Homo sapiens: one gene and its partners. The protein of the gene in region 7 purifies or fractionates together with the protein of the main gene of each other region. This does not show direct contact. Each region holds a gene or a part of one and is shown on either strand. Other genes may lie near its edges.

The links.
Region 1: the proteins of TPD52L1 (region 7) and BLVRA purify together in Homo sapiens (co-immunoprecipitation; one large-scale study listed by IntAct). This does not show direct contact.
Region 2: the proteins of TPD52L1 (region 7) and PGM2 purify together in Homo sapiens (co-immunoprecipitation; one large-scale study listed by IntAct). This does not show direct contact.
Region 3: the proteins of TPD52L1 (region 7) and XPNPEP1 purify together in Homo sapiens (co-immunoprecipitation; one large-scale study listed by IntAct). This does not show direct contact.
Region 4: the proteins of TPD52L1 (region 7) and RNPEP purify together in Homo sapiens (co-immunoprecipitation; one large-scale study listed by IntAct). This does not show direct contact.
Region 5: the proteins of TPD52L1 (region 7) and CYTH3 purify together in Homo sapiens (co-immunoprecipitation; one large-scale study listed by IntAct). This does not show direct contact.
Region 6: the proteins of TPD52L1 (region 7) and GSR purify together in Homo sapiens (co-immunoprecipitation; one large-scale study listed by IntAct). This does not show direct contact.

Annotation. Positions count from the first base shown.
Region 1 is NC_000007.14:43,789,606-43,793,562, forward strand, and holds part of BLVRA (biliverdin reductase A), read left to right. Parts: intron 1-1,643; coding exon 1,644-1,763; intron 1,764-3,109; coding exon 3,110-3,207; intron 3,208-3,957. UniProt on the Homo sapiens protein: Reduces the gamma-methene bridge of the open tetrapyrrole, biliverdin IXalpha, to bilirubin with the concomitant oxidation of a NADH or NADPH cofactor. Does not reduce bilirubin IXbeta.
Region 2 is NC_000004.12:37,825,151-37,829,846, reverse strand, and holds the start of PGM2 (phosphopentomutase), read right to left. Parts: upstream 3,162-4,696; 5' UTR 3,115-3,161; coding exon 3,034-3,114; intron 1-3,033. UniProt on the Homo sapiens protein: Catalyzes the conversion of the nucleoside breakdown products ribose-1-phosphate and deoxyribose-1-phosphate to the corresponding 5-phosphopentoses.
Region 3 is NC_000010.11:109,881,866-109,885,822, reverse strand, and holds part of XPNPEP1 (xaa-Pro aminopeptidase 1), read left to right. Parts: intron 1-1,674; coding exon 1,675-1,756; intron 1,757-3,180; coding exon 3,181-3,391; intron 3,392-3,957. UniProt on the Homo sapiens protein: Metalloaminopeptidase that catalyzes the removal of a penultimate prolyl residue from the N-termini of peptides, such as Arg-Pro-Pro. Contributes to the degradation of bradykinin.
Region 4 is NC_000001.11:201,995,844-201,999,800, reverse strand, and holds part of RNPEP (aminopeptidase B), read right to left. Parts: intron 3,655-3,957; coding exon 3,538-3,654; exon of another isoform or gene 3,392-3,537; intron 2,483-3,391; coding exon 2,247-2,482; intron 1-2,246. UniProt on the Homo sapiens protein: Exopeptidase which selectively removes arginine and/or lysine residues from the N-terminus of several peptide substrates including Arg(0)-Leu-enkephalin, Arg(0)-Met-enkephalin and Arg(-1)-Lys(0)-somatostatin-14.
Region 5 is NC_000007.14:6,269,693-6,274,198, forward strand, and holds the start of CYTH3 (cytohesin-3), read right to left. Parts: upstream 2,933-4,506; 5' UTR 2,816-2,932; coding exon 2,782-2,815; intron 1-2,781. UniProt on the Homo sapiens protein: Promotes guanine-nucleotide exchange on ARF1 and ARF6. Promotes the activation of ARF factors through replacement of GDP with GTP. Plays a role in the epithelial polarization.
Region 6 is NC_000008.11:30,717,510-30,721,466, forward strand, and holds part of GSR (glutathione reductase, mitochondrial isoform 1 precursor), read right to left. Parts: intron 1-3,957. UniProt on the Homo sapiens protein: Catalyzes the reduction of glutathione disulfide (GSSG) to reduced glutathione (GSH). Constitutes the major mechanism to maintain a high GSH:GSSG ratio in the cytosol.
Region 7 is NC_000006.12:125,152,075-125,156,693, reverse strand, and holds the start of TPD52L1 (tumor protein D53), read right to left. Parts: upstream 2,922-4,619; 5' UTR 2,743-2,921; coding exon 2,724-2,742; intron 2,449-2,723; exon of another isoform or gene 2,162-2,448; intron 1-2,161.

The DNA of each region.
Region 1 (3,957 bases), on a different chromosome or scaffold from region 7:
TCTGCCAGTTGGCTTCCAGGGTCAGCTCAGTGGGAACACCTACACTACCCAGGTTGTATGGGAGGATGGCCAGGTCACACCCCTGCATGACAGCCCTGCCAGTACTCACACTGTTTCCCTCTTCACATACCCTTCCCTTCCTGACCTACCTGCTAAGTTCTACCTCCTCCCCAGGAAGCTTTTCTGGTGTATTCCTTTCCCACCCTGAGTCTCCATCTCCTACTTCCAAGCACCACATTTCTCCTGGTAGTCTTGTGGTAGTGGTATGTACGTGTGTGTGTGTGTGTGTGTGTGTGTGTCTTCCTCTAGCTGACTGAGCTCATTGAAAGGCGATGATTTTAATTTGTTCTCCATGATTTCTCCTACAGCGCCTAGTACATAATAGGCAAACAATAAGTATTGCTGAAATTGAGCAATTTAGTTTGGGTGGCCCCATTAAAGAAACCTAGCATAATACTCTTTGGGAGCTAAATTTTCCTGAATGCTTTCTGCCTGCTGCAGCTCAGCTGGAGCTCTGAGCGGGCTGAGGGCCTTCTGCTTGCTAGCTGTCCCACATTCCCCCATGACTGCCACCCTTAGAGGGCTACTCTCCTGCCCCAGCCGCTGCACTGGGAGGTGTACGGACTGCTGGGGCTTTGGCTCTTCGAAGACTGCAGCTCCCCCATGCTCTAGAAGAGTCAGAAGGCCTTGGGTTCCCCTCCTGCTTCTGCTCCTGGTTAGTCAAGGCTATCACTGCCTATTATGTGCTAGGCATTATAGGAGAAATCATGGAGAACGAATTCCTCACCTTCCAATGAGCTCAGTCGGCCAGAGGGAGGAAGACACACACACACACACAAACACACACACAGACACACACACACACAAACATGTGTGCGTACATACTACTGGGCTTCGTTAGCTTAGCTATAAAGTAGCTCGAAGTCGCATGCCAGTTTGCACCCTAAATGTGTTAACGTATTGGATTTGGATTAGGTTTGGTAGTCACAATGTTTGGCCAAGTGCTTGGAACTGGAAGTGACCATAGAGATCACTTCTCATGAGATAAAAGTAGATTGTTCCTTTTATTTTTATGTTATTTTATTTTTGAGGAGTCTTGCTCTGTCACCCAGGCTGGAGTGCTGTGGTGCAATCTCGGCTCACTGCAACCTCCATCTCCCGGATTCAAGTGATTCTCCTGCCTCAGCCTCCCAGGTAGCTGGGATTACAGGCGCCCACCACCACATTTGGCTAACTTTTGTATTTTTTGTAGATACAGGTTTTCACCATGTTGGCCAGGCTGGTCTTGAACTCCTGACCTCAAGTGATCCACCCACCTCGGCCTCCCAAAGTGCTGGGATTATAGGCTTGAGCCACCGCGCCCAGCTGTTTCTTTTGTTTTGGAGATGAAGTAATTCAAGACTCTCCCAGGTCATACACGCTGTGAATGGTACTGTTGGCACTCAATGCCAGATCCCCTGACTTGAACTCTGAGGCTATTTTTCTCACTCCACAATGGAAAATAGCCTGGAAGTGGGAGAGAAGAAACTCATTTCTTCATTTCTGGCAGCAGATCACCAGGACCTGTCGGGAGGAGGGGAGAAGGATGGTGCTCCTTTCTTCTGTCTACCATTGAGTTCCATTTCTCTGTTACTCTGAAATAGAAGGGAGCTCGGGAGCATTGATGGAGTCCAGCAGATTTCTTTGGAGGATGCTCTTTCCAGCCAAGAGGTGGAGGTCGCCTATATCTGCAGTGAGAGCTCCAGCCATGAGGACTACATCAGGTGGGTTTTCCACACAGGCAGTCCTTGCCTTACACAGCAGTGCAGTACTGCAAAAATGAGCAAGCAAGCTAAAACACCCTGCAAAGGAGTCAGAAGAGCCAGTGAGAAAATTACAATTGCTCTGTGACCAATCACAGAAGTGTCAAAACATTAAGAAATTCTTATTGCTGGTTATAAATATATAAGGAAGTGAAAAATAGTAAAATTAATATTTAGTATGTGTAATTTGAAACATTAGAAACATTCAGAATTAAAGTGTTTTATTTCTCTGTAAAAACCCATCGAGAGTAGTTTTCAACAGTAGTGGCCTCCTTCTTCTCACCAGACAGTTTAGGATGTGGAGCCGGCATCCTTGGCAAATTATCATACTCCCTTCTCAGTTTGGATCAGCTTCCAACGTTTTCTCCTTTGTGCTTTCAATGTCATAAAATAACGGTTGAGTTCCTTTAACCCTCAGGACCTGGCAGCTAACAGGGAAGTGCCAGCTGCCTTCCTCAGTCTAGCTTCCTTCTAGGTTCTTACAGCTGCTCCCACCATGCTGTTTCCCACGGGTAAGATGCTTCCTCTTTATCAGTCTAGCTCTAGAGTAGACAAAAACACCTCTCCTTGGCTTTCCTTAACCTTTTCTGGCACCAGAGTGTATTTCCTTAAGAAAAGTGATTCTGACATAAGTCCCATGCTTATAAATATTTGTACTCTGGTATCCACAGAATGAAATCTGAACTGCTGAGCACAGAATTGTAGGTCCTTCACAGTCAGGCCCCCAGCTACTTTTCCAACGTTATTATCCTCCACGGCCTGTAGTCCACTCCCCTGCCACACTGAAGTTTGCCGATTGAACAAAGCCCCACAAATGCCCAAGCCCCTGCATACGCTGCTCACAGTGAAATATACTCACATGTTGCACCTGGAAAATGTCTGCTCATACTTTGAGACCCAGTTCATAGGTCCTTAGTGAAATCTTTTCAGACTGCCTCAGGCAAAGCTAGCCGCTGTGGGTTTTGTAGCCTTTATAGCTACCATGTGGTGATAGGAAATTTATTTGTTAATGTGTCTTTATTTCTCCTCCACAGTAATTGGTAAATAGTACTTAGTTGAATAAATGAATGGTTGAATGTTCAAATTAACACATAACCAGAAAGTTGATCTGTCACAGGATAGTAGAAAACAATGTGGGATACAGTTCTTCCTCCATATCCCGTGGCACTGACTCCTACCCCCAGTCATGACACATTCACACACAGAAACTCTCATGCCTTTATAACATTCTGTTCTCTATTATGCAGAGCATTTCAGTGAAGCTTATTCGAAGTGTTCTTTCTCTGTATTTGTCTCGTTTACCAAAGGCAGTTCCTTAATGCTGGCAAGCACGTCCTTGTGGAATACCCCATGACACTGTCATTGGCGGCCGCTCAGGAACTGTGGGAGCTGGCTGAGCAGAAAGGTAATGTATCTTACCAAGAGTTTCTGCCTCCAGGATTTCTGTGATATCATCTTTATGCCTTTAAAACTTAACCCCATTTCAGATATCTCCTCCTCCTGGCTACACTGGCACTGTGGGCTCCCAACTGCCTCCTCACCCCCACACTGTAAACACAGATAGTGGAGGGCAGAAGGATGGGTGGGAATTTGCAAACTTTTGGTCAAAGCTTATCAGCTTATTTTACTCACTCTAAGGAAAAAATATGAATTAGTTTTCACCTATGCTTATGTCATGATATTATTTTGGCTTTATTCATGTGATACTTATATTGCTAAATGCTGGGATATCCTAAAAATGCTCAAATCAGAGAAACTGATTGTCTTATTTGCATAGTTTGTAGTTTTTGTTGTTTCTAAACAGGAATAACCATTTATTAAATATTTAGTATATGCTAGGAACTTGGAAACTCTGCTAAGCACTTCATATGTTATTTTGCTTAATTCTTCTAGAATCCCTTGGAGGTATATATTTTCTCTAGATGCTGTATAGAAAAATATGGCTCAAAGAAGTTAATTTGTGCCAGGTCACAAAGCTAATAACATGACTACTAAGTGGGAGGTAGAGATTTTAATCAAATCCTACAGGGCTCTTAAGTTCACATTTGTTCCCCTAAGCCATACCACCCTCCAGAAGGGAGAAATTAAGACTTTCCCAGGCCAGACGCAGTGGCTCATGCCCTGTCAGCCCAGCACTTTGGGAGGCCAAGGAGCT
Region 2 (4,696 bases), on a different chromosome or scaffold from region 7:
TAGACCTTTCAATTTTCTGATGCTTTTGAAATCTGAAATATGAAGTCAGTTTGACATTATAATGTAAGTGTTCTTTTCTTTCCTGTCAAGGTAAGCACCTTTGGAGAAATCAAAGTAGAGATTTTAGCATATGAGTCTAACCCCCAGAATGGAATCCCAGAATACCACTTGCCAACTCTAGGTGCTTGCGCAGATTATTCCAGTTCTCAAATTCTGTTTCCCTATTTGCAAAATGGGAATAATCTAGAACCTCCCTTACACGATTTTTAAGGTTTTAAGGTGGTTTACTTCAAATTAATGTAAAATATCTTTCTCTACCTGGCATTTAGTTGTGATTAAATGTCCATTTTTTTCCCTAATGCCCTCAAATTTTCCAGAGTGATAGATTACACAACTTAAGTCAAAACCTTACTTTTGTAATGTTTTATAATTCATACCAGGCATTCACATACCTGGTCAAGTTTGAATATTGTAACATCTCCAAGAAGTAGACAAATAACAGAAACCCAATTTTATAGATGGGGAAGCCTCAGAGATTGGGTGACTTGCTTAAATTGCAAGATAAACATTAATCTAGTGCCTTTTCTATAACATTAACTGCTTCAAATAGACGCTAACATGATTCATTTAAGTTCATTATACATTGCCCTATTTTTTTTTTGTATGGTAGTTGCAGAAAATGTTATGGTTGGAGAAAAATAATGACAATCACATTAGTTTCATATGAGACTTTTAAGTTATGAATTCAGGAAAACAACAGAGGAAGGACTTTATATTCCTGTTTTACAGTCATTATCCATTTAGATGAGCACTCACGCAGGACGTGGCCATTTAATTAAACTTTGAAATACTACTGCAATAAAACCTTGGCTTTCTGGAATTAAGCCCACATTTCCAGATTGTGGCAGATTCAATGGGAATCAAGTAAACCCCATCTTTTTTGGTGAAAAACAGCAGATGCTAATTACAGAACACAGTCTTACCTATCAGATTGTCAGGTGCCCCAAAGAAAGGCTCAGATCAGGTACATAAAAGAGGCTCATAAAAGAGCCTCAATAAATATTAGTGGAGTGAATCAGAAAACATGGACTTCACTGCCACACTCAATATCGAGTGATCCTCCCTTGTTCATAGTGTAGGTCTGGAAAATCTTAATTGGTCTTTGATATCTATGAAAGACTAAGTAGCCTGAGAGAAACAAAGGAGACAGACAGGTAAGAATGACAAGTCAAGAGTACAGCAGGATCAGAATCAGCCCTGGCAGTGAGCAAAACTGACAGCAGAGAAAAGAGCAGGGATGAAGGCACGGTGGAAAGACAGAGGGCACCTGCCAGGGCGCCTTGCCAGTCGCCGGGGGTAGTCTGACTAGAGGGCTGCAATGCTTTTAGCTGGTGGGAGGTTCACTGGAGAATGAATGGGCTTCTTCTCAGGTGCCAGTCTCAAAGCAAAGAAGAAATTAACAGAGGATAGAACATGAGAAGTGATTAAAAAAAAAAAAGGACATCTCATCTCTACCCAGAGAAATACAATTTTTCTATACACAGATGCAACACTGTGTAGAAATTAGATTGTTTTCTTCTTCTTCTTAGAGAAAGTGCATTATGAACTCTGACTTCAAAAGAATTCTGTACTCTGCAAGCTACAAGTTATCAGAAATGGAAACATTTTTCTTCCCTTGTGAATCACAAGGTTATCTTCCCAGGAAAAGAAAAACGCCCCCAAGGAGTTGCCAATAGCATCCTGGAAATGGGATTTGCTGACATTTTATTTGTAGGGGCCAGAGAATGGTAAATAAAGACAAAGACCTGACCCCTACTGACCTTGTAATCTTCTTTGTTCATTCAAGTATTTCAGTGACCTACTATGTGTCATGCACTATGCCTATGCCAGGCACTACAAACCAAGGTAGTGAGAATAGAGAGGCCTGGCCACATAATTTATGGAGGTCCAGTGCACAATGAAAGTGGGTGACCTCTTGTTTTACCAGTAAGACTTTCAAGACAGGACAGCAGGACATTAAAACAACAGTGGGCCCTTCAAGGAGCGCGAGTCCTGTGAGACTGCAGGGGTCTCTCGCCCCTGAAGTCGGCCCTGGAGACAGACATTAAACAAACCTACAAACAAGTGTTTTTGGAGTTTTTTGTTTTTACCATTTGTAGTAAGAGCTATAAAGGAAAATAACAGACTGTTTAGAGTGAATATTAGGGATAAATAATTTAACGCTTCGGAGCCAAGGAAGGACTGACTCTCTACGTAAGCCACATTTAAGTTCAGGCACAAAATATGAGTCACAACGGGAGAAACAAGTTCAGCAGGAGAGCAGCGAGGGACATTCCGAGAAAACCTAACAGCAAGCAGAACAGGTCGAAAGGGCGAGACGCAAGTTTATAGAGAGGAGAGGGAGTGATGTCCAGAGCTGGGTTCCTGATTCTAAGAAACGGAATGAAGAGAGAGAAAACCGTGCTGTGTCCCAGGTGTGCCTCCCTGGCAGTCAAAGTTCTAAGGGGGACTCCTGAAGCCAGGCGGGCCCACCCGGGAGGACAACCCACGTTTGTAACCAAGCCCTCGGGATGGGAGGACCGGACCAGAACGCTGCTCTGCAAAGGTCTCAGCGGCCAAAGGAATACGCGGGACGGAGCGATTCTGGGTCCATGGGGATGCACAGCCGACTACCGACGACGAGCCAGCGGTCTGAGTGACAGTAAGGCGTGCGCCCCTCAACTAGACAGCGTCCAGGGTCTGGCCGCGCTTACACCACCCTGGCTCGCTCCTCTACTCCGAACTTGCAGTCCGGCCGGCCGGATGGCTGGTTTCGTCCGGGGACAAGCCTTCCCGGCCTAACTCTGAACGTGCCGCATGCCGGCCAGGTCGAAGGAAGCCTAGCAGCGGCCGTACGCTCCTGGGTCTTCCCGGGGGAGAAGCGGGATGCACTGGGCGGGAAGGCAGCTCAGGCAGAGCAAGCAGCGCCGCGCCTGGAGAGGGCAGAGCACCCGGCCCCGCTCCAGGCGCTCCCCGCCTGCTGGTGCCCCTCACCTTGTCCCAGCGCAGCCACTGGGCGGTCTCCTGGTCCAGCCGGGCGTCCTCGCCTAGACCGCTGCCTTCTGGAGCCGCCATCGCTGAGCTTGTGCTACCGCTGCAGAGGGAAGCAGGCGGTGAGATCTGCCTTCCGGCCCGGCCCCAAGACGTGGAGGCGGAGGCGGGGGCGGGGAGAGCCGCGGCGGAGCCAGTCGGTCCGGGGGAAAGTGACGCGCGCCGCGGCGGGCACGCCTCCTTGCCGTTTGCGGGTGCGCTGCAGGGGGTGGGAGTGAGCGAGGAGGAATTGCGGGGCTAGGGTGGGTTGCTGGAACCTGGCACGTGTGAGAAGGGTTTGCCATCGTCTCTGATGCATCCAGGCTACAGCCAGCCGTGAGTTCCTGCTGCGCGCCAGGCACATGTCAGATGCTGGGATACCAGGAAGTGCACCCAGATAGGGGCCTGAAGACTATGTAGAAACTCAGAGGGTCAAGAACAGCCAGAAAAAAATCTTGAAAAAGAAAAGCAAAGTAGGAAGACCAGTGGAACATAAGATAGAGACCAGAAACAAAAATACACGTGTATGGACAATTTATTTCAGAGGCGGGGCTGCAGAGCACAGGAAGGAACTATTTTTGGTTAATGGTGCTCGGTCAAAGGGATATCCACGTAGGGAAAAGAAAAAAGGGAACTTGGCCCCCTACCTCCCATCACACACAGCTCTGAACTCCAGATCAATTGTATCTCTAAGTGCGAAAGGTAGTGTAGCAGGAGGAGCCGCAGACAAAACTCCTCAGACACCGGATTAAAGAAGGAAGAGGTTTTTATTCGGCCGGGAGCGTCGGCAGACTCGCGTCTTAAGAGCCGAGCTCCCTGAAAAAGAAATTCCTAGCCATTTTAAGGGCTTACAACGCTAAGGGGTCTGTCTACGTGAAAGGGTCATGATAGATCAAGTAAGCGTGAGGAACGTGACTGGGGGCTACATACATCAGCTAACAGAACAAGAAGTTTTACAGTGCTTTCTCATACGATGTCTGGAATTTACGGATAACGCCAGTAGTTTTGGTCAGGGGTTAATATTATTATTATTATTTTAACCACCAGGGCCAGGTGGTGGCGCCAAGGTCGTCTAGCTATTTATCTTACTTCTGTTTTTTTCCAACTTTTTGCTTTCTCTCTTTTCTCCTGTCTTATAAACTAGGGAAAAGGGGAGGTGGGGGAGAAGCTGGGAAGGACAGCAGAAATGGTGGTCTCTTTCCATAGTAGCGTGAAACTTAGGGAAACTAACATAGGAGCACATCTTCCTGACGCTGGTATCACCAAGCCATAAAGAAGATGCATACCCATAAGCATAAAAAAGCACGGGCAAGAATATTTCTAGCAGCATTATTTGTAAAAGCCTCAAACTGGAAACAACCCAGATGACCATCGACAATACAATGGATAAATACTTGGTAGTATATCCATACCAATTCATATAAATAAATCATGGCACATTGATAGAGCAATGCAGGTGAACTACTGTTATACACAACATCATGAATGAATCTCACAAACACTGAGTGACAGAGTTCAAACACCCACCCCCATACCCCGTCACCCCAAAATACTGCATCATTCATCTGTAGTCCCAGCTATTTCGTGGTGGGGGAGCTGGAGGGAGTCCTGAGGAGGGAGGATCGCT
Region 3 (3,957 bases), on a different chromosome or scaffold from region 7:
GGAACTAAAAGTTCCTCCCCAAGCCCTTTGATGTAATAGTAGTTTCTCAGTCTTTGGACCTTAACCCACCTTCATGCAGTTGTTCAGCACCTTCTTTCATCTAAAACCTGACGGAATCTGGTTGAACCTTCCTGTCCTGTCTTCTGGTTTCTGAGTGGATTTGACCCAGGGCAACTGAGAAGAGGCACTGCTTTATCTTTTTGCCTTCTCACTAGAGAATGAGACCCTACTGCAGTGTCCTCTCTCTTCAGTCCCTGCATCTTCCATCCACAAAACATTGTCAAGTGTGTCAGTGACTTACATCCCTAATTAACTTAATGATCTCAACGTCAGAGAAAAACACCTGTAAAACTTTTCTCTCTCCCTGATTGTAACAAAAACACAATCCCATGATAGAAAACTTGGAAAATGCAGAGGAAGTAAAAAGAAGAAAAAAAAAATCACGTATAAATTCTGTTACTTAGAGATAATCAGTGTCAATATTCTATGCATATATCATTTTATAGCCTGATTTTTTCACTGTATCAGTACACTATAAGCATATACAAGCATAATTTTAAGTGAGTATTAAATACTCCATCATGTGGTTATACCATAATTTATTTAACTGTTTCCCTAAGGATGACCTTTGGGTTATTTGCAGTAATCCTGTAATTTATTATGATGCTACCATCAAAATCTTGGTTCATGAATCCATGTCTTAGTGTTTGATAATTTTCTTCCTATTTCTGGTTGGCTTTTAGGGCTTTTGACTCATCTTGCCCTTTGTCTGCCAGAAAGTTTGCACCTTTGTATTTGAATTTGTCTGTCTTGCCACACCTGAACACCAGGTACTGTCATTTTTAAAGAAGTGCTAGTATGATAGGTAAAAAATGGTGCCTCATCACTTTAAGAAGCCATTATTTTAAAATAGAGGTTATACTTTTAATGCCCAGGCGTTTTTTTGCTCTGATCCTCATGAGAACAAGTGACGGAAGCTGGAAGTCCTGGGACCAGAACTGTGCTCTCTCCTGGTCTGTCTAGTTCTCAGACGTTCAGCAACATCACTGTTACTGGCTGTCCGCAGGTCCCCCACCCAGTCGTGGTGCCAGAGCAGACCCATGGGTGGGCTGCAGGCTCTGATTTCATTGGTGAGCTGCAGCCTTGCTGACTCACTGCTTTTCTTTCCACCTCTGACAGGAAGCTCCGTCTCCATGGGGCTCACTGACCCTTACAGAGGAGGCTTGCCTGGCTTCCCTTGTGGGAGGGTCTCAGTTTTTCTACCCTAGGTCATCTGCCTCAGAAGGGAGAGAGTGCTCGTCTCCTTCCTTTTTATTTGGGAGCGCCAGAGGTTTGTCGGCTTCAAGGCCAGGCCTGGCAGGTCACCACTAGGCGGATCATTTCAACTCCTTGTGGGGGCAGTTCTCAGGATTTCAACTAATAGCTTTTATTCCCTTCTCCGGGCAGTGATGTGGAAGCCTGAGAAACAGCTCTGGTGCCATCACGTGGTGGACATGAGCAATTGCAGCTCAGAGGTGGAACCAGACGGGAGTCAGGCTTCCAGCCTTTCTGTGCGATTCCACTGAATCCTTGCGCAGCAGCTGGACTCCAAGCTGAAGCTCTTCCCTCCCGCTACAAGCGACCCCTTAACATCTTAAGTCAGACAGGTGACAGGGATTTTGATTTCTTTTCTAGGGCTATTTAATCTCCGAGGATCAGATGTGGAGCACAATCCAGTATTTTTCTCCTACGCAATCATAGGACTAGAGACGATCATGTGAGTGTTTGCCCTGCATCTGGAACTCCCTTCCAGAGCTCCTCAGAGCCCTAGTGTGCCCTTTCTGGTCCTGGCCCACCCATCACTGCCTGATATTTCACTGATGTGCTTCTTTTTTCTTGCCCTTTTAACATTTTCCCTTCTTGTTTTCCTTAGCAGTAGGTGTTTATTTATATCCTGCCTCTCTTTGAGCCCCCAAAATGGTTTGAAACGCATGAAAGTGTCTATAGTTCGGGCCACCCATTTGATGTCAAGTTTTCTAGCAGCCAGTGTTAAGGGGTATATATGCTCAATTATACAATTCTGGGTCCACAATGCAAATAAACCCAGTCATTTTGAAGGTCAAAAATAATATGGGAAAACCCCTCCAACTACGCTTTGTTGAATTGTCAGTTTATTTTTTCAAAGCATTTCGTGTGGCCTTCTTTTCATTACTGTTCTATTTCAATAGCTTTTTGCATTAAGACAACACATTTATTAAGTGCTGGTGATGTGCTAAGGGTCTCTGTTAGGTGCTAGGGTGACTGAAACAGGACGGGGTCCTTGGCTGGAGTTGGGGAGATGAGCATGTCCTCTTTCTAAAGTATTTGGGCACATAAGTGGGCACCAGTCTGCTTGTGGGACAGATACAGGTGTTACGAGAGGGGCCTGACCTAGACTTGGAGATCAGAGCAGACTCTTGGGGAAAGTAATATTTTGAAGCAGAGAGTAAGGATAAATGTGGGTGAGTTAGGTGAATGGCAGGGTGAGGAGGGGCGGGGAACCATGATCCAAGCAGAGGGAACAGCATTTTCAGAGACTCTGGACAGTAGAGAGCACAGTGCATGTGGAGGACCTGAAGTGGTTCAGTGAGGTCAGAACATAGTGAGGCCAGAATGTGAGCAGGGGCCACAGAAAAGAGAGGCCTTGTGGGCCACATTCAGGAGCTTGGGTTCTTTTTCTGAACAAGAATAGTGGGAAGCTATTGAACGAATTTTTCAGAGGGAACCACATGTTAGATGTACAAGTTGTAAAGAATATTATGACTGAAACATCGGTAGATGGGGAAAGACTTAGAGGCTGTGGCACTAACCCAAGTGAGAGATGGTGGGACCTGAACCTGAGTGGTGACTGGGCGAGGCTGTAGATGAGCTGGACAGATTAGATGGAGATTTAGGCTGTGGGTCCCAAGGTCTTAATGAAGGACGGGAAGAGGGTCATCAGTGAAGGAGGACACTGCCCAGATTTCTGGCTTGGCAGATTGGGTGGATGGGGGCAGGGAATGCACCTTGGAGGGCAGGATTTGGGAAAGGAGTGGGGAGGAGAGAAAAGGGGCTTGGTTTTGGTTGCCAGGAAACAGAGCCTGATGTGTATGTGTGTCTGTGTTGCCACCTCTCACTCATGTTCCCTCCTTTTTCTGCCACCCACCTCTCCTCCATCTGCAGGCTCTTCATTGATGGTGACCGCATAGACGCCCCCAGTGTGAAGGAGCACCTGCTTCTTGACTTGGGTCTGGAAGCCGAATACAGGATCCAGGTGCATCCCTACAAGTCCATCCTGAGCGAGCTCAAGGCCCTGTGTGCTGACCTCTCCCCAAGGGAGAAGGTGTGGGTCAGTGACAAGGCCAGCTATGCTGTGAGCGAGACCATCCCCAAGGTTGGTGACCCCACTTTGGCCCATCTAAACTCTGCCACCCCCTTCCCAGTTCTGGTATTGTCTTTGGAGCACAGGCAGATTTCTGAGGCTGCCTGTTGGATCAGAACTGTGGTCTCCATGGATGAGGCCTTAAAGCTGGAGCCATAGCAAGAGCCTGAGGGCCCTTATTGCTTGTTGAGTCTTGTGTTTTCCAGAGTGTGGCATGAGAGATTATTTTAGGTGGTACACATTATTATTTAGGTTTGCTTAAATATATCTGTTTTAACAGCATTTAGCATATAATAGAAAAAACATAACTAGCATGAGTTCATGATATAATTATTTAAAATAAAGTTGAATTTAATAAAGCTGATTTAAAGATGGTCTAAAGTAAAGTACTAAGTGAATAAGGGTACAGCAGTTAAGAAGCTAGGGTAAAAGCTGTGCAGGTGGTATAAGAATGCTTGAAGCTTGGGAAATGCTTCTCTACCCCCTCCTTCTGCCGCACCACATTTTATAGCTAAGGACACTTGAGGCTCAGAGAGGATTGGGGAGTTGGGGATTTGGGGATTTGTCAAATTCAAGTG
Region 4 (3,957 bases), on a different chromosome or scaffold from region 7:
AGAACAGCGACAGATACCTGAAGCTTAATAACATTACCCTCCTGGGGACCCAGGGCAAATAGGGACAGTTACAGAGAGCCTGACTCAGTCCCTAGCTCCCTGTTGCTGTGGGCTACAAAGGACTTGGTTAACTCAGGCTGTTGGTCTCTCTCCTAAGTGAGGACTGGGGGAATCGCACCTTTCTGACAGTTACCTTTCCTTATCAAAGTACTGTATTTTTATTTTATCTTATTTCATTTATTTTATTATTTTATTTTTTGAGACAAAGCCTCACTCTGTCACCCAGGCTGGAGTGCAATGGCGTGATCTTGGCTCACTGCAACCTCCGTCTCCTCCTGGGTTCAAGCGATTCTTCTGCATCAGCCTCCTGAGTAGCCGGGATTACAGGTGTGCACCACCACGCCCAGCTAATTTTTGTATTTTTAGTAGAGAGGGGGCTTTACCACGTTGGCCAAGCTCAAACTCCTGATCTCAGGTGATATGCCCGCCTTGGCCTCCCAAAGTGCTGGGATTACAAGCGTGAACCACCACGCCCAGCCCCCGGCCTTATTTTTAGAAAATGATTTGATTTTTTTTTTTTTTTTGAGACAGAGTCTCGCTCTGTTGCCCAGGCTGGAGTGCAGTGGCACGATCTCGGCTCACTGCATCCTCCACCTCCTGGATTCAAGCAATTCTCCTATCTCAGCTTACCAAGTAGCTGGGACTACAGGCACACACCATGATGCCTGGCTAATTTTTGTATTTTTAGTAGAGACGGGGGTTTCACCATTTTGGTCAGGCTGGTCTCAAACTCCTGACCTCAGGTGATCCACCTGCCTCAGGCGTGAGCCACCATGCCTGGCAATGACTTGATCTTCTGTGAAAACTTAGAATTATTTTCATCTAACTGTTTCTGTCAGACAAAAGAAATTATCAACCCCAAATTTTTAAGGATCTCTAAGTCTCCTTCTGCATTAAAAACAATGACTGAGGGAACAGTGGAGGGGTGGGGCACAGGGTTTTGGAACCAGCCAGCTCTGCCCTTTCCTAGATGTTTTGACTCTGAGTAAGTGGCTTAGCCTCTCTCAGCCTCAGTTTCTTCAACTGTACAATGGGATAAAAATATTTGCTTGCAGGATTCCTAATGGCTGATTAAGATATTCACAAACAGGCTCTTGCTATATATATTCTGAATGAAAGTACAGAATTTGTACAAACTTTCTGGAAGATAATGGACAATATGTACTAAAAAGACTATGTAATTTAAAACGTTCAGGGCCGGGCGCAGTGGCTCACAGCTGTTGTCTCAGCACTTTGGGAGGCTTAGACAGGCAGGTCACTTGAGGCCAGGAGTTCAAGACCAGTCTGGCCAATATGCCGAAATCCTGTCTCTACTAAAAACATAAAAACTAGCTGGGCATGGTGGTGCATGCCTGTAATCCCAGCTACAGGGAGTGGGATGTGGGGGAGCTGAGGCAGGAGAATTGCTTGAACTACGGAGGTGGAGGTTGCAATGAGCCGAGATTGCAACGCTGCACTCCAGCCTGGCAACAGAACAAGACTCTGTCTCAAAAAAAAAAAAAAAAAAAAAGTTCAGACCCAGAAATTATGTTTCTAAGAATTTATCATTGTTGAAATCATCTGATATGAATAGACATTTATGTGTAAGGAAATTTGTCAACATATTTCAATGGAAAATTGGAAACAACCAGTAAATTAAAAAACATCCATATATGCAGCTATAGAAGAAAATCTAATGGGCTGGGCATGGTGGCTCACGCCTGTAATCCTGGCACTTTGAGAGGCCGAGGAGGTTGGATCACCTGAGGTCATGAGTTCGAGACCAGCCTGACCAACATGGAGAAACCTCGTCTCTTCTAAAAATACAAAATTAGCCAGGTGTGGTGGCGCATGCCTGTAATCCCAGCTACTCGGGAGGCTGAGGCAGGAGAATCGCTTGAAGCCGGGAGGTGGAGGTTGCAGTGAGCCGAGATCGTGCCATTGCACTCCAGCCTGGGCAACAAGAGCAAAACTCTGTCTCAAAAAAAAAAAAAACTAATGACCTGGGGAAATGTTTTTTTAAAAAAAAGTCAGTTGTCAAACCATGTGTGGTTTGACAATTCATACATACAGAAAAATGTTGGATACACACTACTGCCTCGTCTCTTCACACCCACTTGTATTCTGAAACCCCATAAGGAGATCACACTGGCCCCACAGGTTAAGAATGGGAGGCAGACTCCTTAGGAGAGGGGTGGGCACTTTACCAAAGAGGATGGTGGAGATCCTCCTCTGGGCGTACATGGTGAAACCTTCATTGAGCCAGAATTCACCCCAGTTGGCGTTGGTGACCAGGTTCCCAAACCAACTGTGGGAGATCTCATGGATGATGACATCTGCCAAGGAGCGGTCCCCAGCTAGCAGGCAGGGGGTGACAAAGGTCAGACAAGGGTTCTCCATTCCTCCAAATGGAAAGGACGGTGGCATGAAGAGCAAGTCATACCTGCCGAGAAGCGGGGAGGTCACCAAGAGGCCCTGGCTTCCCGGAGCAGACCCTACCTCGCCTCCCTTTCCAGCCTATTTCCAAGCCCTAACAGATGCAGTCACTAAACAGGCAGAGTACGACTTCGGGCCCAGTGCGGAAAATAAAGCCCAGGCTCCTCAATGCTTCTCCCACGTGGCTCCCCTGCCTTGCTGGGACTTCCCTCATCGAGGTGGTGTCTGCTCTCCTGGAGCTCACTCTCCAGGCATTTGTTTCCCTCTCTCCTTCCAAGCAGGGGTGGAGGTGATAAATGTATTATCAGCTCCATCACATGGAGTTCCCTGGAGGCCAACTTGGGGTCATAAAGACCAACCTGGAGCCTTTTATCTAAGGAGCCTAAAGTCTGAAGATGTCAAAGTTAAAAACAGAGTGTGGGGAAACTTCCAGCAATGGGAAAACACAGGTCAACAAAGGACCTTGACGGTGCTGCCCCATCTCAAACTTGGCAACTGCAGGTCACATTTTGAACACCTCAAGAACCTCTTCTCTGCCGGGCCTGGTGGCTCACACCTGTAATCCCAGCACTTTGGGACCAAGGTGGACAGATCACCTGAGGTCAGGAGTTCGAGACCAGCCTGGCCAACATGGTGAAACCCTGTCTCTACTAAAAATACAAAAATTAGCTGAGTGTGGTGGAGGGCGTCTGTAATCCCAGCTACTCTGGAGGCTGAGGCAGGAGAATCGCTTGAACCTGGGAGGTGGAGGTTGCAGTGAGCTGAGATCACGCCACTGCCCTCCAGCCTGGGTGACAGAGCGAGACTCCATCTCAAAACACACACACACACACACACACACACACACACACACACACACAAAGAACCTCATCTCCTAGGCCCTCTCCTCAGCAACAGTGAGAAGCCTGGCTCATACCCTCCTCTCTTCCTCCTCTCCTTCACTTCTGGGATCAGGGAAACTTTGCTCTGGGAGGCAGGAGGTGGAAAAGCCACACGAAGAGGAAGAATGGAAGCCAGTGACTCAGTTTAACAGGAGACACTAGAGTCAATGTGATACCACACCTTCCCCAAACATAAGGTCCAAAAAGCTTCTCTCCTGTTGCCAAAAATTCTTCTATCACCCCGTTGTACTCCTCCTTGGCAGCATCAATCAGGCAGGGCTCAGCCCACACCCGGCTCCTAAAGACAAGAGAGCAGAGAAAGCAGAATGGTGTTTAGAGACCATCGCAGTGACCTGATCCTGAAAGCACCTGTAGGAAATTGGCCTCCGCCAAGTGAATGTGACAATGCAGTCAGCCACAGTGACGGAGTGCAAGATCGGATCACCACACAGATCCAAGAGACCGCTCACCACACCTGAGAAACAAGAACCCAAGACAGCCTCATGGAGGTGGAACCGTGCTACGCAGTTATGGCTTCACTACTGAATGCGATCTTGCAAAAGTGATTTAACCTCTGTGAGCCTCAGTTTCCTCATCTGTA
Region 5 (4,506 bases), on a different chromosome or scaffold from region 7:
TTGTAATCTTGTGCCCCCCACTCGCTCCTCTTGTAACTGCCTTCCAGCCATTCATGCCACCATCCTCTCTCTCCTTATCTTGCATTGAAAGAACAATACAGTGGACAAAAAGCTAAATTAACTTATAAAAATAGCAAGTAGGAATCAATTTTTCAAGTCTTTTAACCTGACCATTAACAAAAAAAAGACCTTTTCAATTATCTTTGGCTTCTACCATAACTACTGTTTGAATAGATTATTTACCCTATCTTTTAAACAAGCTTTAACTGACTCCCCCAGATACAGTTCAACATTATGTACTACACTCTAAAAATATACCAAAAAATGTTATGCTTTATAATCTGCTGGCAGCTGAAACGGTTTTCTTTAAAAGAGCTCAACTTTATTTTTTTAAACATGAATTTTAAAGCATTTAAAAATCTAAAAGGTATTAACTGTAAAGAGGTATGTTAACTTCAAAACTTACAACAGCCAAGAGTTAAATGTAAGCACATAAAGTTTATACAATAATTACAATATCACTCATATTTCAAAACTTTGCTTTTCACCTGTTTCAAAAATAAATATCCTAATATTGCCAAAAATATTTTTAAGTGTCTGTCACAAAGCAAGGGAGAAAGCTAGTCATAAACTAAATCAATAAAGGTTAAAAGTTATTTTCCAGCACCTAACATGCTGGCTAGCATTTTGATGGGCAATCAATAAATAAATCTTCATTGTTGAATGTTCCAGTGAGATGAATTAAATGATACACTTAAAACATTCACGTCTTTGATGGTTTTTTTCCAATCTGAAATACACACTTATTCCAGAAACCTGGAAAATATAAAAAGAAAATAAAATAATCCATAATGTCACCAATGTTTATGTTGTTTAAACCATGATGTATAAAACTGCTTATTTTAATGGTTGTAAAATACTTCAATAAACTTCCCATAATTTACCTCACCATGCCCCTGCTGTTGGCGTTGCTGTTTCCAATTTTTTGCTATTTTAAACAGCATAATACACATCTTTATACGTGAGGGGTTTATTTCAAGGTTGCTTCCCTGTGATATATTCCCAGAAGAGATACTAACAACCCAAGGACAATTTTAAGACTTTTGATACTTCATATCATCCTTTGTTATAGTACTCAAGACCTGCAAATTGCTGGAGCACATTAAAGCCTCCTCTTTTCCTCTTTATTCCTGCTTTAATCTTCAAGTCTACATTTCTTTACTCACAGAGCCCAAAGCACCTTACAAACAAAACTGCCAAGCCAGCTAGCTGCCTTGACGCTAATGTCCAACGTCTGCATATTACAGTTGTCTTTCTTTTCTAACAAGGGAAAACAGCTATGCCCAAATTGTGACAGGCAGGAAACACGACATCCACCGGGAACCCATTCCTTAGGATCTCATGGCTCCAGACAGCCTGACTGTAGGAGGGTTCGCAACTGGGCGCCTTCGTTCCACAGCGCTCCCATCAACACACCCACTCGGTGCCACAGTGCTACCCCTAGCTTCAACTATAAGAACTGAACTCGCCAAATGCCATGACGGGTGCCAACTTCCCACCATCCTGGCTGCATCGCGTCTTTCAGCAAAAAAACATCTCCCTCTGAGCAGCACTTGAATTCTGGAAGGCACCTTGATGATGAACCACTTCATCCTGAAGCATTCAATACTGCTGATTCTTACAGGCAGCTGCACCGGCAGCCTGTAATTAAGATTTCTCTAAACTGCTCCCTTATTACATGGGGTTCTGATGATTCTGATGATTTCTCTGTCAGCTCAAAGGAGATCTTCAGGAAAAAAAAAAAAAGTCTAGAGAACCTCAACTTCGGCTGTTCCTGTAAAAACACGGGCATTAACCCTTTGCTTTCCAAAGCGAACACCCACTCCATACAGAGGCACGTTCCTCTGTTTTTAAAATCTAATTCCCAGCATGACCCAGCAGTCATTTGTATTCCACTAAATAATTTCCAACAAACACGATTCCTCCAGCAAGAGGAAACCGAACGTCAGACACAGACCACCTGGGCCACGACGCGCATCGACCCGACCCACTCGGGAGCACACCTGGCTCCGGGCACACCTGGCTCTCCGGTCTTGCCTCTGTGCTGGGTGCAGCTCGTGTCTCCCACCCTCGGCTCCACGGAGTTTTTTGCTCAATCTGTCGCGTCTGCCGTTTCCTAAAACGTCTACCCTGAACTGAACTCCAGCTGGCCCCCTCCCCGTTCGAGCAAATCCAGCGACCGTTTCTGACCCAAAGCCAAGCAGACTGTCACGCTTTCCAACCGTTTCCCCTGCCCTCCCGTCCTGTACACTCGAGGAGCCTCCAGTGCAAAACTTTCCCCTCCCGGTTTCCCACCGGCTCAGCCGCTTCCGCCCACCTGAGCTGAAAGGGGGCGTCCGAAACGCCGGGCTCCGGAGGGCATGAACGCCCTTGGCGACAAGATGCGGGGAAGGTCGCCCCGCAAGGTCCCCCGCCCCAGAGGAGCGACACCCAAACCCCGGCCCGAGACTCCGGGGCGACCCCAGCCCGCGGCAGCCCCGGCCTGGTACCCAGACCCTCGCCAGCGCCGAACGGCGACCCCGGCCCGCCCCCTCCCTCGGCCCCCGGAGACCCAGCCTCGGCCCTGGCCCGGCGTGCCTCAGGCCTCCAGCGGACGCCGCTGCCGCTGCCCCCGACCCCGTCTCCTCCGGCGAACCCCGGCCCAGCGCCGCGCCCTCGACCCCCAGCCCCCGGCCCCCGACCCCAGGCCGCCGGCGAGCCCACCACACCTCCGACACTCACCGCCACCACCCTCGCCGCCGCCGTCTTCATCCATCTTGAGGCCACTCCCGCAGCCGGCGAGCCGGGGGCCGGCAGCAGAGGGGCCGCGGGCTGGGGACGCCGCCGGAGGGAGCGCGCAGGCGACCGGGCGGCTCCTCAGCGCGCGGCCCGGGTCGCGGCCGGGCCTCCTCCCGCCGGGCGGGGCCTCGCTGGTCGGCGTGCCGTCACGTGACCCATGCCCCGCCTCTGCCCGCGGTGGGCGGGGCGTGAGGCCGCGCAGCCCCGCCCTCGGGAACCGGCCGGGCCGGCGGCGTCTGCGCTGGGGAAGGCTGTAGACCTGGCCCCTGAAGTGCAGGCCGATCCGGTGTGCGTGGAGCGAAGCCTCCTCGCCCTCAGCATTCCAGTAGCCTGCGGACGGGCGTGGGGCCCCGGACACTGGAACGCCACACTCTGCAAAACCCAGTGGCCAGGGGTGCAACTTGCACGTGCACTCGGGGTAAAAGATCAAGAAACGAATGCATTCAGAAGTCAGGCCTGGCCAGGCTCGGTGGCTCACACCTGTATTCCAATACTTTGAGAGGCTGAGGTGGGAGGATCGCTGGAGAACAAAAGTTGGAGACCAGCCCCGATAACATAGCGACCCAGGCATGGTGGCATGTGCCTGTAGTTCCAGCTACTGGGGAGGCTGAGGTGGGAGGTCACGTCACTTGAGCCCAGTAGGTAGAGGCTGCAGTGAGTTATTATTGCACCACTGCACTCCAGTCTGGGTGACAGAGTGAGACCCTGTCTCAAAAAAAAAAAGAACAAGGTCAGGCCTTCTCCTTCCTAAGACATGCATGTCAGAAGAATTCCAGCCTTTCAGCTGTCTTATATTTAATGGAGCCTCTCCTCCTTCCCTCCTGGTGAGTGCATTTTTAAATTAACAAAATGCAGGGCTTGTAAATGAATGTGGTCATGAGGTTGGAACGGAATCCCGATTCAACACACCTGGGGCTCAGCTCTCAAAGGGCATTGTAGGGGTTGGCCAATCTGGCGGCTGATGCCCTTGGAGTTTAGCGCCAGTCTTCCTTGGAGAGCTGCCAGCTGTCCTGGATTTATGATGCAGGAGGAGCTCTGAATTCAGTTTCCCTTGGGCACAGCCAGGGTCCTCAGCACAGGCCTCCTGGGCAGAAGGCCTCCCCTGGCCCCTGCTCCACATCGATGGATCTCCTCTCTCACTCCCCATATCTCTCTTCCAGTAACTCCTGAAGCATTGCTTGTGGCCCCTCCCAAGCCTTTCTGTTGGAACTCAATCGCATTAAAGAAAAGCAAACATTGTAATGGAGGAGATAGCTCATCTCTAATATAATTTTCCAGCAACTGTTTTATATTTACAAGCTGTCCATTGAACCAAAGGATCCTTCCGTTGTCATCTATCAAAGTGGACAATTTCACCTTTTGGTTCAAGGTTGCGGGATGATTTCAAAGTTCAATCTTCTAATAACCTCAAGAATTGAACACCAAGCATTCTCATGCAACCAAACCCACGAGGGACACTTTTTTTTTGAGACAGGGTCTCGCTCTATTGCCCAGTCTGGCATGCAGTGTCTCGAGTGATCCTCACACTTCAGCCTCCCAAATAGCTGGGACCATAGGTACATGCCACCATGCATCGGTTAATTTTTGTATTCTTTTTTAGAGACGAGATCTTGCCATGTTTGCCCATGCTTGTCTCAAACTTCTGGACTCAAGCGATCCTCCCACCTT
Region 6 (3,957 bases), on a different chromosome or scaffold from region 7:
CGTCGCTAGCATTACTGCCTGAGCTCCACCCACTTCCTTTCAGATCAGTGGCGGCATTAGATTCTCATAGGAGCGTGAACCCTATTGTGAACTGTGCATGCAAGGGATGTAGGTTGCACACTCCTTATGAGAATCTAATTGCTGATGATCTGTCACTGTCTCCCATCAGCCCCAGATGGGACCAACTAGTTGCAGGAAAACAAGCTCAGGGCTCCGTCGGAGTCTAGTTTATGGTGAGTTGCATAATTATTTCATTATATATTACAACATAATAATAATAGAAATAAAGTGCACAATAAATGTGATGCAGGCTGGGCGTGGTGCCGCAAGCCTGTAATTGCAGCACTTTGGGAGGCCGAGGCGGGCAATTACCTGAGGTCAGGAGTTCAAGACCAGCCTGGCCAACATGGTGAAACCTCCGTCTCTAATAAAAATACAAAAATTAGCCAGGTGTGGTGGTGGGTGCCTGTAATCCCAGCTACTTGGAAGGCTGAGGCAGGAGAATCGCTTGAACCCAGGAGGCAGAGGCTGCAGTGAGCCGAGATCATGCCATTGCACTCCAGCCTGGGCAACAAGAGTGAAATTCTGTCTCAAAAAAATAAAAATAAATAAATAAATAAATAAATAAATAAATGTGATTCACTTGAATCCTGAATCATCCTGAAACCATACCCCACTGCTGGTCCGTGGAAAAATTGTCTTCCACAAAACTGGTTCCTGGTGCCAAAAAGGCTGGGGACTGCTGCTCTAGCTGACCTGTGCATCAGGTTGTTAGAGGGAGCACAGGCCTCAAGTCAGACAGATAGGAGTTTGACTCTCAGCTCTCCCATTTAGTGGCTAGAGGTGGGTGAGTTTCCAAATTTCTCCTAGCTCAGTTAAGGGAAGAATGCTTCCATTATGGAGATTTTGAGCAGGTCAGAGATAAGGTATATAAAGCATCTATTTCTAATCTATGATAGATGTGATGGTGACTCTGATACCTCTGAATTATTTCTGCGTCTGCTGGCTCCCCACACGCACACAAGGCATACGGAAAGGCGGAGATAAATTCCCCAGGGGCCTTCCTACCTAAAACACATCAGCTGATCACAAAGGAAGTTTGCCTCCCAGACTGGAGCATTATCAGATGAGTTCTCAGGGCTCTGGTTGCCCAGAGTTGCACATTGCTAAGACCCTCAGCATACAACACTGGCAGATTCCCCGGTTCTCCAGGTGGGCATTAATGAGGGATAAGAAACAAGTTTCTTTTTTTCTTTTTGAGACAGAGTCTCACTCTGTCGCCCAGACTGGAGTGTGCAGTGACACAATCTCAGCTCACTGCAACTTCTGCCTCCCAGGTTCCAGTGATTCTTAGCTTCCCGAGTAGCTGAGATTATAGGCACGCACCACTATGCCCTGCTAAGGTGTTTTGTTTTTTTTTTTTGCTTTGTTTTGTTTTGAGATGGAGTCTCACTCTTGTTGCCCAGCTGGAGTCCAGTGGTGCCATCTCGGTTCATCACAACCTCTGCCTCCTGAGTTCAAGCAATTCTCCAGCTTCAGCCTCCCGAGTACCTGGGATTACAGGTGCCCGCCACCACGCCCAGCTAATTTTTAAATTTTTTTTTTTTTTTTTTTTTGAGACGAGGTCTCACTCTGTCATCAGGCTGAAGTGCAGTGGTGCGATCTCGGCTCACTGCAACCTCTGCCTCCTGGGTTCAAGCAATTCTCCTGCCTCAGCCTCCCGAGTAGCTGGGACAACAGGTGTGTACTACCACACCTGGATAAATTTTTTTTTTTTTATGTATTTTTAGTAGAGACGGAGTTTCACCGTGTTAGCCAGGATGGTGTCGATCTACTGACCTCATGATCCGCCCACCTCGGCCTCCCAAAGTGCTGGGATTACTGGCCTGAGCCACCGCGCCTGGCCAATTTTTGAATTTTTAGGAGAGATGGGGTTTCACCATGTTGACCAGGCTGGTCTCAAACTCCTGGCCTCAAGTGATCCACCCACTTCAGCCTCCCAAAGTGCTGGGATAACAGGCGTGAGCCACCACACCCAGCTAAGAAACAAAATTTCACAGGCTGTTCAGTAAATACATCATCAAGGAGACTCCTGTAACTCAGCCTCCCTTTCCAAACCGATGATCCATTCCTGAGAGCTTCCTTTTCCAACCAATCTAGTGTTCAGAACCCCGATCAGTGGGCCTGCTGGCATCAATCTAGTGTTCAGAATCCCGATCAGTGGGCCGCCTGTTATCTGGTGATAACAGGTGGCAAAATTCAGAAGCTTCACCATTTTTCCTAGGGCCTGCCTCGTTACCTTCAATCCTGCCTAGCCAGGTAGAAACTTCACATTGCCCATGTTGGCAGTAAAACAAGAACTTGGTTAATCTGCAATTGCGCCTGCCAAGAACATCAACTGTGTTCAATAGTGAACTTGCGGCTGGGTGTGGTGGCTCACGCTGTAATCCCAAAACTTTGGGAGGTGAGGTGGGAGGACTGCTTGAGCCCACGAGTTAGAGACCGGCCTGAGAAACATAGTAAGGCCTCGTCTCCACAAATAAAAAATTTAAAAATTAGCCGGGTGTGGTGTTGCACGCCTGTAGTCCCAGCTACATGGGAGGCTGAGGTGGGAGGATCGTTTGAGCCCAGGAGTTTGAGGCTGCCATGAGCTATATTGCACCACTGCACTCCAGCCTGGGTGACAGAGCAAGACCCTGTCTCAAAAAAAAATTGTTAACTTCCTTCCTCTGGTTCCCCACAACCTCCCACCACAGAATTGCCTACAGTTTCCTCCCTCTGTCGTCCTTCTTTGCTGCCTAAAATCTAATTCAAGACCAGAATGAGAACTACTCAGAAAATAGACGAGTCATAATTTCCAAGGCAAAACACTATCGATTTATCAACTCAATTATTTCAGCAACTATATACTGAGTACTTGCTATGTGCAAAACACTGTTCTAGGGGCTTGGACTATACTGATGACTTAAACAGATAAAGATCCCTGTCTCTGTTGCATTTCATCAGCTTTACACCAACCATGACTAAATATAATGCTGTCTGGACATGGCCCTGTCCCTGGCACATATTCACTATTCAATATCCATGTCTCCACCTTCAAAGTCTTTTTTTTCATTTCAGATGAAGGTTAGTTCAGGGAGGCATCAAACTTGAGAAAAAGAGAAAAAAAAAAGCAGTCTGTGTAAAGCAGAATCTAAAGCAAGAAAATCAATGGATACATTTGCAAGAGATATTAACAAAGGCTGTTTTTGTTCAATTCTTAGCTAAGCAGAACATTAACCTGAACCTTCCAGTCTCAGGAAATCACCAGATTTTTAAAAAGTGTGACTGGGTGCCGTGGCTCACACACAGGTGTGTAATCCTAGCACTTTTGACGGGTCAAGACTGGAGGATCCTTTGAGCCCAGGAGTTTGAGAGGAGCCTGGACAACACAGCGAGACCCCATCACCACAAATAACAGCCTGTAGTCTCAGCCAGTTGGGAAGCTGAGGCAGGAGGATCATCTGAACCCAGGATATTGAGGCTGCAGTGAGCCATGATCGTGCCACTGCACTCCAGCCTGGGCGACAGAGTGAGACCCTGCCTCAAAAAACAAAAAAATTTAAAAAATAAAAATAATTGTTACGGGCATCCGGGGAGAAGAAGAAAGAGTTTTGTGAGACAACTCTTCTGGATGTCAGTCCCCACTATTACCTGATACCCACCATCTCCCGTCCCCCAAAAAGAAAAGGACCTAGGACCTCCACATCCTATTAGGCTGGTGCAAAAGTAACTGCAGTAATATTTAATGTTGCAACACCTAGTGAATAGAAGGTAATGAATTCTCACTGACTGGAAGCCACTTACAAATGCCAAAGTGGTCCGGGCATGGTGGTTCAGGCCTGTAATCCCAGCACTTTGGGAGGCCAAGGTGGGCGGATCACTTGAAGTCAGGAGTTTGAGACCAGCTTGGCCAAC
Region 7 (4,619 bases):
GGGCTCAGGTGATCCTCCCACCTCAACCTCCCAAATAGCTGGGATACAGGCACGCACCACCACACCCAGCTAATTTTTGTATTTTTTGTGGAGACAGCGTTTCACCATGTTGCCCAGGCTGATCTCAAACTCCTGGGCTCAAAAAATCTGTCTCCTCCAGCCTCCCAAAGTGCTGGAATTACAGGTGTGGCTGGCCTTTTTTGTATCTCTCTCTTTTTTTTTTTTTTTTTGAGACAAGGTCTCACTCTTGTCCAGACTAGAGTGCAATGCTGGGATTTTGGCTCACTGTAGCCACAAACTTCTGACCTCAAGCAATCCTCCCACTCCAGCCTTCCAAGTAGCTAGGCCTACAGGCACATGCCACCACACTCAGCTAATTCTGTTTATTTTTTGTAGAGATGAGGTCTCTCTATGTTGTCCAGGCTGGTCTCGAACTCCTGGGCTCTAAGTGATCCTCCTACCTTGGCCTCCCGAAGTGCTGGGATTACAAGTGTAAGCCACTGCACCTGGCCTCTTAAGTATTTATTAAATCTGTTCACTTTTCTCATATCCATTTGCCTTTTTACTAGTCCTCTTTACACCTAAAGTTTCCATCCAGTCATGAGGGGAAAGGAAGAGCACCACAGGACAGCTGGAGATTCAGGTGGGGACTGAAGTTTTACCTTTCCTCCAAAAGTCATAGGCTTTGAGTGAGAATGGGTCCCTCACAGCATCCACTTTGCTACTTTTTACCTATCTGGCTGTAAACAAGGAACTTATTAAAAAGTCATGGCAAAAATTGCAATTACTTTTGCACCAACCTAATACCTTCCATGCTTGTTTCCTCTCTGTAGAATGGGAATGAGAATATGAACTACCTCATGGGACTGCTGCGCACAGGAAATGAGTCCATCAATACATGCAAAGCACGAAGAACAGAGACAGGGACACAATAAACAATCTGCTCTTCTGATTATTGCATACTAGGGTTATAGTTTTTCAGGCTCTCGCTGCACTATGAGGCCCTTTCTTAGCATCAGCATGGCAGTGATTTTACATGTTATTTTTCAAATAGCTATCAAATTAATATTTGTCTCTTCCTCTACTGTAAATTTTATGAAGCAGATACCAAGTCTGTCTTTGCTCTTCTTAGCACAGTGCTTGGCAAAGGAAAGCACTGAAATATTTGTTAAGTAAATCTTGGAAGTAAAGCAAAGCAATAAAGCAAACCAGTGACACCAGTGGTTACCAGTCTGTAGTTTCGGATGTCTTCAGAAGTTGTATGAATGTTTCCTATCTGCTATAGTTCTTCTCCATCCTCACTAATATAAGCTTTCAAATATACCCATGTTCAGGTTCCAAAGATTCCAGTTTGACTGGGATGGGGTTGGCCAAGGCCAGTAATGAAGACTCTCTAAATAATTCTAATATGCAAGTCAGGTTGGAAAGCTCCGGTGCTGCTCCCACCAGCTTCAGTTCTGGCGTGAAGGCCTCCAACCTGACCTCTGCTTTTGAATTTGACCAACTGCCCTCACCCTTGGTTGAATTATCATTTCCTATCTACATAATAGAGGAAAAAATATGGGAAGCGGCAGCTTTACGGGCAGGACTTAGGAGGATGGAACAAACGAGTAAGGTTCGTGCTGTTCAGACAATTGTAATCCTGGCAGCAAACCTGTTGGGCGACTCCAGGCCCACGCAATCGCCAACCCACTCTCATTCAGGGCGTTCTGCCCCTAGAGGGCGAGCGCATCAGGTCATGAACCTTTTTTTTTTTCTTTTTAATGAGATTTTATCTATACTAAGAGCCAACACAGAGTTTCCTACTGTGTAAAAGAATGGTGGCTTTGATTGCCTTAAAGGCTGAACTCCGCAAGCCATCCCTTCTGGGCGTTGCTCCCCAAGGTAGATCACTGAGTCCGTTTCCTTCCCACTTGTCTCTCGCTCCACATCCGCCCACCTCTGCCCCTTTCCACGGTCCGTTTACCCCCATTCTTGAACGATTCCATCGGAATTCCCCAACCCTGTTCCAAGTGTGACCCCAAGATATGAGGCCGCCCTTCCTGAAGCCACCGCAGGCTCCTCCAGCAGGCAGCCCCGGGAGCAGGGAGCTGGGCGGCCGGGGGCCCCGCGCGCCACGGGAGGCAGAGGTCGCTCCCCGATCGCGGAAACCGGGACTCACGTGTGGATCTGCTGGAGGTCAGGGGGCCGGTAACGTTCACCTGGCCTCGGAAGGCGGGTCCCCGAGCGGGAAGCGTCTCGCGCAGCCGGGCTGCGGAGCCACCCCCTCGGCGGGCGATCCTCTCACTCCCTAACTTGGGAGCCACAAGCCGCGAGTCCACGGCGCTGGGCGAAAAGAGTCACATTCCCTCCCCACTCCCTCAAGGGAAAGGGAGCGAAACACGCTTTCCGGACCCGGCACAACAGGTCCTTCGGGCAGCCGCGAGGTTGGGAAGGCCAGGGGCGACTGGCTGCGGAAGAGGGTAGAGCATTCCACGGGCGCATTTCCTGAGGAGGGGCCTCTCCACTTACGGATCCCCTGTCACTTTATTGATCCCCAGACCCACAGCAAATCCTGAGTTTGGGCAGCAGGCATTATACCAAAGGCGCGGGTGGGAGTGGAGTTCTGGATGTGCAACACGGCACCAATCTGTTCTGTCCGAGAGCGAAGTTAGGTGGTGCAGGAAAAGAGCCTTTATGCGCGCCCCAGGACCTGACTCTCGGGGCGATCGGCGACCACTCACCTTGTGCCTGCGCCTCCATGGTGGCTGACTTCGAGCTGAGGGCGGCGGGGACACCCTGGTGCTTCCCAGAGCAGATGGCAGCTGCGCCCAGGCTCAGAACGCAGCTGGCCCCGCCGCTCGCTCCCACTCCTGGCACGCGTGTCGCGAGCGCTGCGCGGAGGGGGTTGGGGACGCAGGCAGCCGCCACTAGCCGCTTCTGGTTACCTCCGCCCCTTCCAGTCCACCTGGCCCAAACCAAGCTGGAACAAGCTCGCCGCTGGGCGCCACCTGCCGGCGCTCTGTACAGCCGGCGGAAGGCACCCACTCCCGGCGCTATAAGGGCATAACGCAGAGATATTGCAGGTTAGGTTCCAGACCCCCGCAATAAAGCGAGTATTGCAACAAAACGAGTCACACGAATTTTTCAGTTTCCTAATGCATATAAAAGTTACGTTTGCACTATGCTGTAGTCTGTTAAGTATGCAATAGCACGATGTCTAGAAAGAGCAATGTACCTACCTTAACTTAAAAAGATATTTTATTTCTAAAAAATGCTAAAGATCATCTTCACCTAATGGGAATCTTTTTGGTGGTGGAAGGCATTGCTTGGATGTTGATGGCTGCTGATTGATCCTGGTAGTGATTGCTGAAGGCTGCAATAGCTGTGTCAATTTCTTAAAATGGGACAACAATGAAGTTTGCTGCATCAATTGACTCTTCCTTTTATGAAAGATTTTTCTGTAGCATGCAATGCTGGTTGATAGCATTTTATCTACATTATAACTTTTTTCAAAATTGGAGTCAATCATCTCAAACCCTGCCATTGCTTTATCAACTAAGTTTATATAATTATAAATCTTTTGCTGTCATTTCAACAATGCTGTGAACAACTTCACCAGGAGTAGATTCCATTTCAAGTAACCATTTTCTTTGCTTGTCCATAAGAAGCAACTCCTCAACCATTCAAGTCTTATGAGATTGAGCAATTTACTCACATATTCAGGCTCCACTTCTAATTCTAGTTCTCTTGCTATTTCTACCATATCTGCAGTTACTTCCTGCTTTGAAGTCCTGAACTCCCAAAGTCATTCAGGAGGGTTGGAATCAACTTTTTCCAAACTCCTGTTAATGTTGACGTTTTGACTTCCTCCCACGAATTATAAATGTTCTTAATGGCATCTAGAATGGTGAATCTTTTCCAGAAGGTTTTCAATTTACTTTGCCCACATCCAACAGAAGAATCACTATTAATGGCAGCTATCTATTTATTTCTTAAATAATAAGGCTTGAAAGTCAAAATTACTCCTTTATCCATGGGCTACAAGATGAATGTTGTTTTGCCAGGCATGAAAACAACATTAATCTCTTCGTACATCTCCATCAACTGTTGAGTGACAAAGTATATTATTAACCAATATTAAGCAATAATATTTAGAAAGAAACATTTTTTGAGCAGTAAGTCTTAATAGTGGGCTTAAAAATATTCAATAAACCATGCTGTAAACAGATGTACTGTCATTCAAGTTTTGTTGTTCCATTTATAGAGCACAGGTGGAATATATTTAGCATAATTCTTAAGGGCTTTAAAATTTTCAGAATGGTAAATGAGCTTTGGCTTCAATGTAAAGTCACCAGCTACTTTTGCCCCTAACAAGAGAGTCAGTTTGTCCTTTGAAGCTTTGAAACCAGGTATTGACTTCTTTGTAGCTGTAAAAGTCCTTGGTAGCATCTTCTTCCAATATAAGGCTGTTTCATCCGTATTGAAAATGTGTTGTTTCGTGTAGCTACCTTCATCAATGATCTTAGCCAGATCTTCTGGAGAACTTGCTGCAGCTTTGACATCAGCCCTTGCTGCTTCACCTTACATTCATGTTATGGAGATGACTTCTTTCCTTAAGCCTCATGAGCCAGTCTCTG